Regions from separate parts of the Homo sapiens genome. Here region 1 is linked to region 2. Evidence: fine-mapped expression QTL. Tissue or cell type: ovary. Region 2 holds a variant in brackets; the other region holds the start of a gene. All regions are shown on one strand. Distances are between the middles of the regions.

The links. PIP is the estimated chance that this variant, and not a neighbour inherited with it, causes the effect.
Region 1: NOP10 starts here. The variant in region 2 is fine-mapped to the expression of NOP10 in ovary (GTEx, PIP 0.98).

What each region holds. Positions count from the first base shown.
Region 1 is chr15:34,338,688-34,346,794 of GRCh38, forward strand. It overlaps NOP10 (NOP10 ribonucleoprotein), which reads right to left and starts at 4,449. Exons shown (of 2, transcript NM_018648.4): 1 at 4,333-4,449; 2 at 3,032-3,421. The coding sequence starts at 4,386. The coding sequence ends at 3,281. NUTM1 (NUT midline carcinoma family member 1) reads left to right here and starts at 4,628. Exons shown (of 8, transcript NM_001284292.2): 1 at 4,628-5,015; 2 at 7,255-7,348. The coding sequence starts at 5,010. RefSeq lists silencers at 4,192-4,301, 4,382-4,481.
Region 2 is chr15:34,268,908-34,277,014 of GRCh38, forward strand. It overlaps SLC12A6 (solute carrier family 12 member 6), which reads right to left. Exons shown (of 26, transcript NM_001365088.1): 3 at 6,438-6,482. Among named protein-coding and RNA genes, the nearest start is that of EMC4, 48 kb to the left of the region's middle. The variant A/G (reference allele first, on the strand shown) is at 4,317.

The sequences.
Region 1 (8,107 bases), 70 kb after region 2:
CAGCCTGGGGGGACAAGAGCAAAACTCCGTCTCAAAGAAATAAATAAATAAAAATAAAACTATAAAGTACCTTAAACACATTTGTCCTACTTTAATTTTTTGTTGTTGTTCTTGTCCTTTTAATAAATGCTATGTCCACTTTCTAGTCAGACTGAAAGTTCCACTAAATAATACGTTTTTTTATACCTGGAGAAGACGTTGATGTATTTTCTCAAATCCATTCCATGTTTTCACCACTACATTTGTCGCTAGAATATTTTTTCTTAGTGTTTATTTAATGTATAAATGGTGGTGTTCGATAAATTCTGACTCACCAATGTTTTGTTTGAAAAGCTATTTCCTATAGCTGTGATCAAGACCTCTAAATTTAACAATCACCTGGGCCCAGAAACTGGCCCCCGGTTTTGCCTGGGGTCTTGGCTCCTCACAAGTGGTTATGTTTAAGCAGCACTCCTAGCAATGGGAACTGTATTCCCGGAAGTTCTCTTTTATCAAATGACACACAAAGTCCAAATCCTTTCAAGGATTAAAGGATCAAAAAGGTTAAAAAGATCCTGGTAACAAAATGAGAAATCCTAATGTAAAGTGTAAACCTCCTAAAGTTTGACTCTTTATAAAGTCTGGGTTTCTTGATTCAGGCCCACAGCTTTCATCCATCCTCAGCAGGATCAATTTTTTCCTCAGGCAGGCCTGCCGTTCATTCAAACTTCAGACTTTTCCTTTATAAAGAAACACAGAATTTTTATGAAACCCAATTTCCTACCAGTGTATCTGCATTTACTTATATGTACCACCTAATTCCAATATACTATCCCTGTTAAGACTTTTCTTGTTTCTGAGCACTAACCAAGCTCTATAAATGTATGTCTCAGACGTTAATACCCCAGGGATCTCTTTATTTTCTCAGGGAGACACAGCCTCTGGTGCAAAATGAAGCCTCATTCCTCAGGGGATCTCTTATGGAAAAAGTCCTTTTTATATTCATGCCAGTTTGCTTTCTCTCCTCTATATTCATTAGGAATATTTTCAGGTTAAAGCTTTTAAGTCTACACAGGTGGTAGCATGGAGCAATGCTAATTCTTTTTTTTTTTTCTTTTTTGTAAGATAAAGGCAGAACTGCAGCCAACATTAAAAAACTGGTAGCAAAATTCACTTACTGACTTTGGTGCTTAAGAAACATGTCTCCAATCATTATCCCCTTAATTGGATAAGATAACTTTTAAAAATCTTTCAGATCCAATGTTATATCCAATCCTGTAAGTGAACAAGCTAAGAAATAAAATTGCTTGACAGGAAACAAGTATCCCATTTCACAATTTCTCTAAGTTAACTCTTTAAAATCCTTCAGATCCAATGTTAAGAACCCTGCAAGTAAGTGAACAGGCTAAGAAATAAAATTCCTTGACAGGAAACAAGTATCTCATTTCACCATTCCTATATGTTTCAGTAATGTATTTCAAAATCATCTGTCTTCTATTAATTATGACTCCAGTTGAGAGACTTTTTTTTTTCTTTTCAGCAACCCACAACTATCCTGAACTTTTCTGCTGGGATGGTCAAATAGCAAGATCCAAGAAAAGCAAAGTCTGGCCGGGCACTGTGGCTCACGCCCGTAATCCCAACACTTTGGGAGGCCAAGGCAGGAGGACAGCTTGAGCCCGGAGTGCAACACCAGCTTGGGCAACATAGTGAGACCTCGTTTCTATAAAAAATTTAAAAATGGGGTGGACCGCTTGAGACAGGGAGGTAGAGGCTGCAATGAGTTGTGATCACATCACTGCACTCCTGCCTGGACCACAGGAGTGAGACCTGACTCAAAAAAAAAAAAAAAGTATTTCCAGGGTATGTCTTCATAAATCACATCTGTGCTAATTTAAGTTATATCTGCTTCTGGAATCTAGAATTTTTATCATAGAAAATAAAGATTGCAGAATTAAAATACAGACTCCACAAAGCAATTTTAAAATCTGCAGCACTAGGCCGGCCAAGGTGGCTCATGCCCGTAATCCCAGCACTTTGGGAGGCTGAGGCGGGCGGATTACTTGAGGTCAGGAGTTTGAGATCAGCCTGACCAACAAGGTGAAACCTTGTTTCTACTAAAAATACAAAAATTAGCCAGGCATGGTGGTGTGCGCCTGTAGTCCTAGCTACTCGGGAGGCTGAGGCAGGAGAATAGCTTGAACCCAGGAGGCGGAGGTTGCAGTGAACCAAGATGGCGCCACTGCACTCCAGCCTGGGGTACAAGAGCAAAACTCCATCTCAAAAAAAAAGAAAGACCCAGGCCAGGTGTGGTGACTCATGCCTGTAATCCCAGCACTTTGGGAGGCTGAGGTGGGTGGATCACTTGAGGTGAGGAGTTTGAGACCAGCTTGGCCGACATGGCGAAACCCTGTCACTACTAAAAGAAATACAAAAATTAGCCAGGTGTGGTGGCGTGCACCTGTAATCCCAGTTACTTGGGAAGCTGAGGCAGGAGAATTGCTTGAACCTGGGAGACGGAGGTTGTAGTCAGCCAAGGCTGCACCCCTGCACTCCAGCCTGGACAACAGATCTAGACTCTGTCTCAAAAGAAAAAAAAAGAAAGGCCCACCACTAAATCAATTTGAGTTCAAAGATAAGTTAATCAGGAGAAAAATCAGACTAAACAGGTTAAGTAACTTTCTCAAAGTTATACAAAAAGCAAATACTGGTCTTCTGACTTTCAATTCACTGACCTCTGTCTGTAATATGCCTATTACTTTTACAAGTACTCTTCCATTTTTAATCAAAATCTTATTTCAAGGGACAAGAAATTACGTTAAGTGACAACAGAGGTATTTTTCAGTGAATGCTGACAGCTGTGAAAGTCTTAATCTTTCTTCCCCAATACCCTCCTATCATGAACAGCACATGACCACTCTTGCAACAGCAGGACTGAAGTTTTTCTTCCAAGTGGTATTGTTGCAACTCTCTGGGGTACTCTCCTTTATCATCTCCCTCCCTTTAAAAAAATACTGCCAATCCTTTCCTCCAACAACTCACAAAATAAGAGTTTTTCAAATCATTTTATCTTTAATAATCTTGTAGTAATTTAAAATATGAGAAAAAAAAGTCAAATGTGTTCCCTTTATGGGTGATGCCACCATGATTGCCTCACACAAGCATAATCAATCGCCACGAGAGACTGGATGCCAAAGAGTATGGCTGGCAAAAAGGCATCAGGGCTCACAGTCCGAAGAGTTTGGTTACGGAGTCTCCGAGGGGTAACAGGTGGCAGAAAAGACATCAGTTTAAGGGACCCTCAGAGGACAGGGCGCGGTTGCTGGGTCATGAGCACCTTGAAGCGTTTCTTGATGGTGATTCGGTGTCGAGAGTATTTGTCATCTGGGGAGAACCGAGCAGGATGGGCTGAGCAGGTCTGTTGTCCCATCGGGTCAAATTTCTGCTCCAGGAACACAGAATGTATGTCAGTACAGGAGTGATGAAATGGGGTGGGGCCAGCGCGAAAAAGGGCAAACATGAAAATAGAAGATGCAATGGTCAACTCAAAAAGTTGTACAAATAAATAGAGAAATATAAAATTTAAAAAGGCCGAGCGCGGTGGCTCACGCCTGTAATCCTGGCACTTTGGGAGGTCGAGGCGGGAGGATGGTTTGAGACCAGCCTGGGCAATATGGCGAAACCTCGTCTCTACAACAAACAAACAAACAAAACCAACCAACCAAACAAAAAACCCCAAAACCAAAAATTAGCCGGGTATGGTGGCGCACGCCTGTAGTCCCAACTACTCGGGAGGCTGAGGCAGAAGGATTGTTTGAGCCCAGGAGGCGGAGGTTGCAGTGAGCCGAGACCGCACCACCGCACTACAGCCTAGGCAACAAAGCGAGTCCCTGTCTTTAAAAAAAAAAAAAAAAAAAAAAAGGAAAAGTGAGTGCAATGGCGCTATCCCGGCTCACTGCAACCTCTGCCTCCCGGGTTTAAGCGATTCTCCTGTCTCAGCCTCCCGAGTAGCTGGGATAACAGGCGCACACCGCCATGCCCGGCTAATTTTTTGTATTTTAGTAGAAACGGAGTTTCACAGTGTTGCCCAGAATGGTCGCGAACTCCTGAGCTAAGGCAATCCACCCGCCTCGGCCTCCCAAAGTGCTAGGATTACAGGCGGGAGCCACTGCGCCCCGCCAGAATTTTTTCTTTTAATTAAAAAATGAGTCGCGCGGTCCCGGTTCTTCCCCACCTCGGTTCTGGACTTTCTGGTTCCCCGCACCCAGCTAGGTAACTCCACGTATGACCTCACCCACTCCTCCCATCTACATTTCTCGCCATGCCTATTTACACCCTGTTTTCTCTCCTCACCTTCAGCGTATAGACTCGATCTCCCTGCTCGTTGAGGTAATACTGGAGAAACATGATCGCTTATAAGCCAGCGGTCCCAATTCGGTCCACCGCTCAGTCTGCAGTGGTCCGCCCGACCGCGTCACGTGTTCGTCAATTTCCTTCCTGCATAACCGGAAGTCTCTCTCTCCTGGCACTCCGGAAAATGTAGTCAATTTTTGCCTTGTTTTCAGCTAGCCAGAAGGGGGCGCACGAGAGCAGGGCTTGGCTTGGGGCCCTACTTGCAACTTTGCAGGCTAAAACACGTGGAGTGTCCCTACTGTGTGCTAGGTACACGGCGTTAGAGGGGGGTAGGGATGGATGTGGATAGAATATTGACGTATAGAAGCCTGTCTTTGTCTCAAGATACACACCCATTTCAGGAGCAGTGAGTTTTCAATGCCTGAAGAAACAAGGGCTCCAGGATTCAGAGCCCCTTTACCCTAGGGAAGAAAGAAGAGGTTTTCTTCCCTCCCCTCTTTTACATCCAGTTCCCCTGCTCCATTTCAAAGCGTTGGCGGTAAAGAATGCATGTTGAGTATCAATATTCCGTAAAGCGAAAGAGCGTAAAGTTATTTTATGAAACTGGTGAAGCATGTTTCAGCGGTCGAACCAAGATTTAAAGTTAGGTCCCTACCGCAAATTCAGCGCTCTTTCTTATGGTGGTGAGTAGCTAATAATAACGTAATAAAGTGCACCTTCTAGGAGTTTTTACAATTTTTAAAAGAATATAGAAGTTCTCCTTATAAGACTCTCGTTTAAAGAAATGAAAATGAGAACCAAAATATCATTACAAAGATCATCGTTACGCCATTATTTACAATGACAAAAGCATTGGAATATATATTAACTGTGTAACCAGAAAAACCTGCACTTTTTTTTTTTTTTTTTTAAGAATATGGTTTGGCGGGGCGCGGTGGCTCACGCCTGTAATCCCAACACTGGGAGGCTGAGGCAGGCAGATCACAGGTCAAGGGTTCGAGACCAGCCTGGCCAATCTGGCGAAACCCCGTCTCTACTAAAAATACAGAAAAATTAGCCGGGCGTGGTGGTGGGCGCCTGTAGTCCCAGCTACTTCAGAGGCTGAGGCAGGAGAATCATTTGAGCCGGGGAGGCAGAGGTTGCAGCGAGCTGAGATAGCACCACTGCACTCCAGCCTGGGTCCGTCTTAAAGAAAAAAAAATATGGTTTGTGGCTGGGCGCGGTGGCTCACGCCTGTAATCCCAGCACTTTGGGAGGCTGAGACGGGTGGATCACAAGGTCAGGAGTTCGAGACCAGCCTGGCCAATATGGTGAAACCCCCAAAAATACAAAAATTAGCGGGGCGTGGTGGCGGGCACCTGTAGTCCCAGCTACTCGGGAGGCTGAGGCAGGAGAATCACTTGAACCCAGGAGGCGGAGGTTGCAGTGAGCCAAGATCACGCCACTGCACTCCAGCCTGGGCGACAGAGCGAGATCCTGTCTCAAAAAAAAAAAAAAAAAAAAAAGAATATGGTTTGTATTTACTTGTAGTTGCATAAAAAATCTCTGCAAGTATTCACAAGAAACAGATGATACTGGTTTCCTCTGGGATAGAGAACTTAGTTGCAGGAGAAAGGGGTAAGGGTTGGGAGGCAGACTTATTGCTATGTATTTTATTACGCAGTTTGATTTTTGAACCTTGCTAATGTATTTATTACCTGTTAAAAATTTTTTAAAGGCCGGGCACGGTGGCTCACGCCTAGTAATCCCAGCACTTTGGGAGGCTGAGGCGGGCGGATCATGAGGTCAGGAGATCGAGACTATCCTGGCTAACACAGTGAAACCCCGTCTCTACTAAAAATACAAAAAATTAGCCGGGCATGGTGGTGGGTGCCTGTAGTCCCAGCTACTCAGGAGGGTGAGGCAGGACAATGGCGTGAACCCGGAAGGCGGAGCTTGCAGTGAGCAGAGATCACGCCACTGCACTACAGCCTGGGTGACAGAGCGAGACTCTGTTTAAAAAAAAAAATTTAAATCTAAGTAGTTAATTTTGTTAGAAAGGAAAATGATGATTTTAGCCTTCAGGTCTTTAGAAAAGAGAAAAGATATCTCAGAGGAAGCAAGAAAGATGCCATGAACCCCAGGGAAGGCCTTTTGGGGGAAATCCACGTTTGGATGAAGCTGTGGCTGTAGAGGATGCTCTGGGAGTTACTGGCCTGAAATAGTCGCCAGGAACCTTAGCAGATAAATTTTATTTTTAAAGTTTAAACCAAAATAATTTAACAAAAAGAAGGACTTTCTACTCTTGAAATTTTAAACTGCATGGCAGCTTTTTTATTTAGTGAGGCTTTTCAGCAAAGGGTAAGGCGTCTGTGGAGTACAGAGCCTATGTTAGTAGATTGGACAGCTTTCCAAGGAAATGATGTGCACACAGCAATCGAGCACCTTGGATCATCTGACAATTCTAATTTTAAACTTTAGTTCCCTTGATCCTTACGTGTATAGACCAATGTACTCTGAATTTAGTTCAGAAAATATAGCCATCATTGAATTAAGTCAGGGGTCTACAGTCAACCTGCTGTTAATAGGAAGTCAGTTACAGAACTGGCTGGGATGGAAGGACACAAAATGAGATATGTTGGTGAAGAATCGAAGTGTAGTGAACCAAACGGTAAAACTGTAATGTGTTGGGAATCTGAGAAAAAGTTTACAAATAGCCCTAAAGAGGCAAACATCAATTGTGTTGCCAAACTGTAGTTTGAAGGGAATTCCTGGTTTTTTCATACTTACTAGAACCCTTCATGGAATATCTGTCCCCACCCTCACCCCACTTTTCCCTCTCCCCTCCCCCACAGCAGAATGCCTTGAGTTCCGTATTCTAGTTCTGTGTGATCTGATCTTTACCTTCCCTTCCTTGGATCCCTGTGCACCTACTGGAGCCAGGTTACTCTGGGTCCTGGACCTGACTGCCTCATTCTGGAGGCTTCCAGACAGCCACAGTTAGTGCCCAAACCTGAGAGGATGGCTTCAGATGGAGGTAAGTCTGCAGGTGGTGAGGAGGATTTCTGGTACCTGCTCATATCCTTTGAGACAAGCTCTCTGGGCTGACCTAAAGGAATGTGAGGTGCTACACCCCGTCAAAGGTATCACACTTGGGGAGGCTAGGGAAGGAGATTGTACCTTTAAGACTAGGGGCTGGGGAAGGAAGAGGACTTCCTTAAGGACAGATTAAGGTGTCTCTGAGGACACATGCTGAGTATAGAGAAAGGATGGCAATTAGCAACTTGATTCTCTTGAACAGGGGACACTTCCGCATGTGTTTTTGTGGTGGGAGAGAGGATCAGGGGTATGTGTCTTAGGACTGGCACAGAGAGGTTTCAAGGGGGAAGGCCCAAGTTCATCTGTCTTTTTTAGGCAACTGGAGCCTGTTCTAGGATTTTGCCATGCTTGAGCTTATGAGGGGAAGGGGATGTGGAGGATGGAGGATGGGAGGGTAAGGTGGGAAGGACCTTAGTGGGAAAAGATAATCTGTAGTTATCTGTTGCAGAGAAATGCCTTCCTGAAAACTAGGCTGGAATGTATTATAAACTGCCTCTGCTTGGGCCGGGTGCGGTGGCTCATGCCTGTAATCCCAGCACTTTAGGAGGTCGAGGCGGGTGGATTACCTGAGGTCAGGTTTTTGAGACCAGCCTGGCCAACATGGCGTAAACCCCGTATGTCCTAAAAATACAAAAATTAGCTGGATGTGGTGGTTCGTGCCTGTAATCCCAGCTACTTGCGGGGCTGAGGCAGGAGA
Region 2 (8,107 bases):
GTGCAGTGGCACAATCTCAGCAGACTGCGACCTCCGCCTCCAGGGTTCAAGCAATTCTCCTACCTCAGCCTCCCGAGTAGCTGGAATTATAGGCGCCTGCCACCATGCCTGGCTAATTTTTTGTATTTTTAGTAGACATGGGGTTTTGCCATGTTGGCCAGGCTGGTCTTGAACTCCTGACCTCAGGTGATCCACCCACCTCAGCCTCCCAAACTGCTGGGATTACAGGTGTGAGCCACTGCGCCCAGACACTATTATGTTTCTTTTTTCTCATTTTACTATCTAAATAATGCTGACATTTTTGGGAAACTTACTGGTGTTTCACTGCATAATTCAAATGAAAACTGATAGGATAATTCTACTAAATATTTCAGATTTCTGTTTTTCATGGCATATTTTTTTTTTGTAAACAGAAAAAAGGTATACCAAAGGTCTTACTCTTTATATAAACACTTTACTGTTGTGATGTTATTACTTCTATAATGTTGCATTTGTCAATTACCACTTATACTATAATTTGGGCCCTAGATAAATCTCAAGTTACTCCTTTAGCTTCCTGATCTTGTCAAATGGCCTTTGCTAGTCTGAGTTAGGCAAGAGAGCAGTAGGTGTACCTAATTTCCCTTGGCACAGGTTTGGGTTTGTACTATGTGACTATGTGAATCTGAAAGGTTATCCCAAATGCTACATGTTTTTGATTTTATACTTTGTTTTGCCATTGATGTGTTAAGGAAACCATGTCATTTGTCCTGGAGAGTTTCTGATGGTCTGGGTTTTGATCATGGCATCCATGTGATGCTGTTTAACATGCTCTTTTTTTTTTTGTAATTCCTATAAATTGGTAGTTGAATCTAAAAGCTTAATCACATTCAGTACTTCTAGGAGGGTAGGGAGGAAAACTACTTCACAGTGGTATTATGAACTGCCAGGAGGTACATGTCATTGTCATCTGGTTGTCTTTCCTTTTGAGATATTAGCAATTGTTGATGAGTAATGCCTAGCTCCATTAATTTATGAGAGGTCACCAAATGGTAATATTCTCATTCTATTATTGTTCCTTCATTTATTAGCTAGAATACCTCTATAAAAAGAGACATTTCCTTTAATCTACTATTTGATTACCAAGTGGTTCAGTTAAAAACAGGACGAATAATTCTTTCCCTTTACTGACCAGTTCTCAGAATAATTGGTTCACTAAATACTCCAATGGTGACCAGTTAGTTGTGGGTTTTGTTTTGTTTTAGAGACAGGGTATCACTCTGTCGCGGAGTACAGTGGCACCATCACAGCTTACTGTAGCCTCCAGAGTAGCTAGGACTACAGGTGTGTGCCACCATGCCAGGCTAATTATTTTTTGCTTTTTTGTAGAGATGGGTTCTTGCAATGTTGCCCAGTCTGATCTTGAACCCCTGGCCTCAAGTAATCCTCCTACCTCCCTCCTCAGCCTCCTAAAGTGCTGGGACTACAGGCGTGTGCCATTGTGCCTGGCTCATTTTTTAAATTATCATTATGAACTCATAAACTTAAATACTGGGTTTTTACTGTATTAGCCCTTCCTCATGCTGCTATGAAGAAATACCCAAGACTGGGTAATTTATAAAGAAAAGAGGTTTGGCTGAGCACAATGGCTCACACCTCTAATCCCAGCACTTTGGGAGGACGAGACAGGCGGATCACTTGAGGCTTGGAGTTTGAGACTAGACTGGACAACATGGTGAAACCCCGTCTCCACTGAAAATACAAAAATTAGCCAGGTGTGATGGTGGGTCCCTGTAATCCCAGCCACTTGGGAGGCTGAGGAAGGAGAATCACTTGAACCTGGGAGATGGAGGTTGCAGTAAGCCGAGATCATGCCACTGTACTCCAGCCTGGGTGACAGAGCAAGATTCCATCTCAAAAAACAAAACAAAACAAAACAAAAAACAAAAAAAAAAAAAAGAGAGAGAGAAAAGAGGTTTAATTGACTCCAAGTTCAGCATGGCTAGGGAAGCCTCAGGAAACTTATAATCATGGTGGAAGGCCCCTCTTCACAGGGCAGCAGGAGAGAGAATGAGTGCAAGGAGGGGAAATGCGTGATGCTTATAAAACCATCAGATCTCATGAGACTCACTCACAATCATAAGAACATAGAGGAAACCGCCCCCATGATTGTTACCTCCCACAAAACGTGAGGATTATGGGAATTACAAGTCAAGATGAGTGGGGGGAGACACAGCCAAACCATATCAGGTATGTTTCAAATCAAATGCTTTTTCAACCTCTATTAAGATTATTATACAATATTTTTCTTTTAATTTGTTAACATAGTGAATTATATAAATTAACTTTCAATATTAAACCAACCATGGATTTCTAGCAGAAACTCAACTTGATGAGGGGATAATTTAAAAAAATATGTTGCCCGATTCAGATTGCAAATATTTCGTTCAGGATTGTAGATATGTTCCTAAGTAAGGTTGGCCTATACTTTTTTTTTTTTTTAATCTCATGTTGCCATTCTTAAGTTTTGGTTATCAAGGTTGCAAAAGCCTCAAAACTGAGGTAGTAGTTACTTGGTTTTCTATTCCTTATGAGAGACTGACTGCAGAAGACTCGAATTATTTTTCCTTGGATGCCTGATAAAACTTTTAATAATGCCAGGACCCATGGCTTGTTTGCTTGCTAGCTTTCTAAAAATTTTTTTAAGTGCAAAGCTACACACACACACACACACACACACACAGAAAAGTTCATAAATCACAGGTGTACAGCTTGATTATTACAACAGCAGTTTCACCCTCCCGTATATCTCCTCAGCCTGACCCTGAGTTTTGCAAGAGACCCGATGAGTCAGTGGGAACAGTAGATACATTAAAATAACTGTGCCCTGTTGACAGTAAAAACATTTAGAAGGACTGGAAAGGGCTTTTATATATCCAATTCAACAGCAAAGGTCTGAAAGATGTTATTACAAATTCAATTAAGCAGGCAAGGCAATTGAACCAGTTTTTCACCTACCAGGCCAAATTATCCTAAACAAGGTTTTTAGGGAGAGCTGGGAAGATTTTCTTTTTTTTTCTTTTTCTTTTTTTGTTTTTGTTTTTTTTGAGACAGAGTCTCACTCTGCCGCCCAGGCTAGAATGCAGTGGTGCGATCTTGGCTCACTGCAACCTCCACCTCCTGGTTCAAGCGATTCTCCTGCCTCAGCCTCCCAAGTAGCTGGGACTACAGGCACCCGCCACCATGCCCGGCCAATTTTTTTTAAGTAGACATGGGGTTTCACCATCTTGGCTAGGCTGGTCTCGAACTCCTGACCTTGCGATCCACTTGCTTTGGCCTCCCAAAGTGCTGGGATTACAGGCGTGGTGAACCACGGCGCCTGGTTGGAAGATTTTCATTCAACCTTATAATGCCTTTTCTGAGTAACTTATCAGATGGTTAGAAAATACAACAAAAAAAATCTTTCAGTCTTTTGCAAACTCATGAATTTCTTTTAATTAAACCAGACTTTTAAAGGTTTTGAGGCTACAGCTAAAACAAAGATACTTAAGACAGAAGACAGAAGAGGATAGTTCTTCAGAGCATGAGAAAAAAGGAAAATATGATCTGACTCCATGAATCTAGGAGAGAGAACTCAGGCTGGCAGGATGGACATACCTGATAATCTGGCCAGAAGACTGGATGAATCCTCAGGTTGGCTAAAAATTGAATGCAACTGTAGGCTGCCAAATGAGATTAATGTTTGAAGCAGTCTCTTTGCAAATACTATTAGAATTTTTTGGCTAATAATGACTAAGATAACTCTTCCTTCATAATCAAAGTTACTTATTTTTGCCTACAGTTCCCCAGGTATCCTTTACTGCAGGTGATTAGCTGGGAACAAAATCCAGCTTAGTAATACTAGAACTGTATCAACTTTTGACTGTCCATTTCACTAGCTAAGCTGCCTCCATTGTACATGTGTTCCTGATAATGAACTATTCTCAAACATCTCTGCCTGTCATGTATGTATCAGGGACAGAAACACTTTCATAGTTTAGAGGAAAGATGTTCTTTTCATGGTCTGGCAAAATTTTTCAATGAAAGTTTAATCGTTCCTGATCCAAATATAAAATTTTTATATACAGAAGACTAATTTTGAGCAATGTATAGAAACTATCCAATATAAAAGTATAAAAAAGTGGCCGGGAGTGGTGGCTCATGCCTGTAATCCCAGCACTTTGAGAGGCCACAGTGGGTGGGTCACCTGAGGTCAGTAGTTCGAGACCAGCCTGACCAATAGGGCGAAACCTTGACTCTACTAAAAATACAAAAATGAGCCAGGCGCTGTGGCGTGC[A/G]CCTGTAGTCCCAGCTACTCAGGAGGCTGAGGCCAGAGAACTGCTTGAATCTGAGAGGTGGAGGTTGCAGTGAGCCAAGATCGTGCCACCGCACTCCAGCCTGGGTGACAGATCAAGACTCCATCTCAAAAAAACCAAAAACCAAAAAAACAAAAAACCTCTAACATCACACGGTCAGGACCTTGGTGATCAGATTTGTATATTTATGTCAAACCATTTACTTAACAAATATATACTGAGTGCCTAGGATGTCAGGTACTGTTTCAGCATATAAACTCACTAAAGGAATGAGGGCTATGGTCTCATAAACTCTTCTCATTAACCCAAGGACTATCCTAAGTCTTTAATATAGAAAGAACGAAAAAGGAGTATCCCAGTTTCTTCAACTAATCCTCTGAAGTTTTTACTTTCCCTACTTTGGACTTTTTGATAGCTTATTTTTCCATAGCTGCTTTACACATATTTAAACAGCTAAAAGCTCAGCAGGGATCAAAATAAGCCTCAAATCAAAGCATACATAGACACACAAGTGTTAAATACCAAATAATATACTAAAAATTACTTAACCTCACTTACACTGAAGGAAGTATAAATAAAAAACTAGAGATGCCATTTTCACCTATTAGGTAAAGAAACTATTTTAAGATTAATAATACCTGTTTTTTTTTTTATTATAGAGAGTCAAGCATTACTCCATACTGGTGAGAGTTTAAGCTGATGTATCTTTTTAAACATGTACATATCTTTTGAGTAAGGAATTCCACTGTTAGGAATTTACCCTACAAATATACTGGCATTAAGACTGATATATCTATCTTATATACTGGATATAAGTATAAGATATTCATTGCAACACAACTTACAACAGTAACACACTTGGAAATACATGCTCATGAGTAGGAAACTGGCTGAATAAAATTATAGTGCAGGAGCACAATGAAATACTCTTCCATCACAAACAAAGGAATGAAGCAGAACTTTATGTACTAAGATGTCCAAGGTAAAATGTTAAGTAAAAAGAAGCAGTCTGTATAATAGAACAGTCCATTTACTATAACACCATTGATATAAAAAGGAAAAGATAGTCATATATAATACAAAAATTTATAATTAAAAATTTCTAGAAGAATTCCCAAGAAACTGTCAACAGCAAGTACTTTTAAGAGGTGGAAATGAGGTGGTAAGAAGAAGAGATACTTTTACTTTCTTTATATATGCCTTTTGTTTGAGCTGAATGCCTCATCAGGGTATGTTTCTTTTTACACTTTGAAAATTTATCAGTCCTGAGGTCTTGTGAAATTCCTGTCAAGGCCGGGTGCAGTGGCTCACACCTGTAATCCCAGCATTTTGGGAGGCAGAGGTGGGCGGATCACGAGGTCAGGAGATGGAGACCATCCTGGCCGACATGGTGAAACCCTGTCTGTACTAAAAATACAAAAATTAGCTGGGTGTGGTGGCGGGCGCCTGTAGTCCCAGCTACTTGGGAGGCTGAGGCAGGAGAATGGCATGAACCTGGGAGGCGGAGCTTGCAGTGAGTGGAGATCGCACCACTGCACTCCAGCCTGGTGACAGAGCGAGACACTGTCTCAAAAAAAAAAAGAGAAATTCTTGTCAAATTATGCACTTACTTTAAAGAAGTGGTACCCAGAGGAAGTAAATTCATTTCCATAATTTGTTTCATAGATAAGGAACTGGAACACCAAATTCTAAGGACTGCTTAAGGACATACTGTTTATGAAGTACTTTCAATAATTAAAAAGGGGATCAAAAGGCCAAGAAAAGTAATAAAAAGGGAAAATTAGCTGCAAAGTCAGATATTACAAAGCTATTATAATATCTTCTTTTCCAAATTATCTTTAAAAAATTCTAGTTCTTAGATTTTTTTTAACCATAAACCATGCAAAATTACTTTTTAATTTAACTGAGTCTTAGTAATCAATTATAGAAGTAGTTTCCTAAAACTTGGCAAGTTGGGAATAGAAACAGCAGGAAAAAAGTTGTTGGGTGGGAAGTAGAAAAGGAGGGGATAGAAAATAGAATCAGAGAAGGGAGTAATGTCTGTTAGGATAAATGAGTTAAGGGTGACTTTGGATAAAGTCAATCCCCACAGTAATACTATACCTAACAGTTGGCTGTGTTCCCCTGTGATGGAGTTCTGACTCAGGTCTGAAAAACAAACAATTGAAAAGAAAAGAAAAAAATGAATGATCAAAACAAATAATTTCTTTAAAATCAGCAACAAAAGTCAACCAAGGAAATAAGCAAAAAAATTTAAAAACTTATGAAATATTAATGTGAAGATAATAAAAAATAGAATGAACTAGTGTAAAGAATGATCACATAGCTCAAAAAGTTAAACATAATCACCATCAGCAATTCTACTCCTAATTATACTTCCAAAATAATTGAAAACAGGGACTCAAACAGATACTTTACCACAAAGTTTATGACAAAATAATTCACAATAGCCAAAAGGTTACCAGGTATACTTCTACAGATGAAGGAATCAACAAAATGTAATATACACATACAATGGAAAATTATTCAGCTATAAAAATGAATGGAATTCTGATACATGTGACAACATGGATGAACCTTGAAAACATTATGCTAAGGAAAACAAACCAGACACAAAAAGATAAATATTATATGACTCAATTTATATAAAATGTTGAGAAAGGGCAAATTTATGGAGATGGAAAGCAGATTAGAGGTTACCAGGGGCTGGGTGGAGTAGGGTATGGAATGTTATTGCTTAAAGAGTACAGCGTTTCTGTTTGGGGTGATGAGAAATTCTGGAAACAGATAGTGGTAATGGGTGTACAACACTGTAAATGTAATTAATGCCACTGAGTTGTACACTTAAACATGGTTAAAATGGTAACTTCTGTATTGTATATATTTTGCCACAATAAAAAGTAAATTAAAAAAATAATAATCACACAAATTTGACCAAGCAGTCGTTTCATAAAGTAGAAGGATGATTCAGGATTGTGATATGAATTATATTTTTAATGACGAAGGAACATTTTAATGACAAAAAATACTTATGGCTATAGCAGCTCAAAGTCAAGACATAAATAAAGCACTTATTACTATTAGCAGATATATTCTAGTAGTTTGACTTTAAGATACACTGACTACATTGGCTTTCATAAATATCAATTTCTTTAGTAATCTGAAATAAAATTCGTGGCAATAAGCCAAGTTCCTAATGCAAGAGATATTGACAATCATCATTTAACAGTCAACCACTTACTTATTTTAAAGGTTTGAAAAGCACTAAGAGCTAAAAACAGAAAAGACTAAGCTCCACTTTCCTCAAAGACTAAATCTCTTGAGACGCTGATGATTCTGGCTTCCTTGAATGTGCCTGGGGTAATAAAAATAATTTTAGACCAGGGTTTATGTGAACAATGGGAAAAAAAGTCACATCTTTATTTTCACTAACCTCTAACTGAAGTTAAGGATTTTCTACAGCTATGATGTATGCAACAGATTACATAAAAGTACCTTTGATTTTGTCTAACAATAAATCTGAGACATTTTTATATCACATTATTGTTTTAGACAAAATCCATAGTCCACATATGTTTTACATATCATTTAATTAACACTTTAAGCATCCCAGACAGAAAGAAACAATCAGAATACTTAACAAATTCCAGTTTCTGATGTATATTGGAGTATACACTATATATTTTAATTAAGGAAGTCAGGTAGAAATCTGATTTCTACCACAGAAGTTTTAAATGCTATTTGAACATTTAACAATTTATTTTCAGGGGATT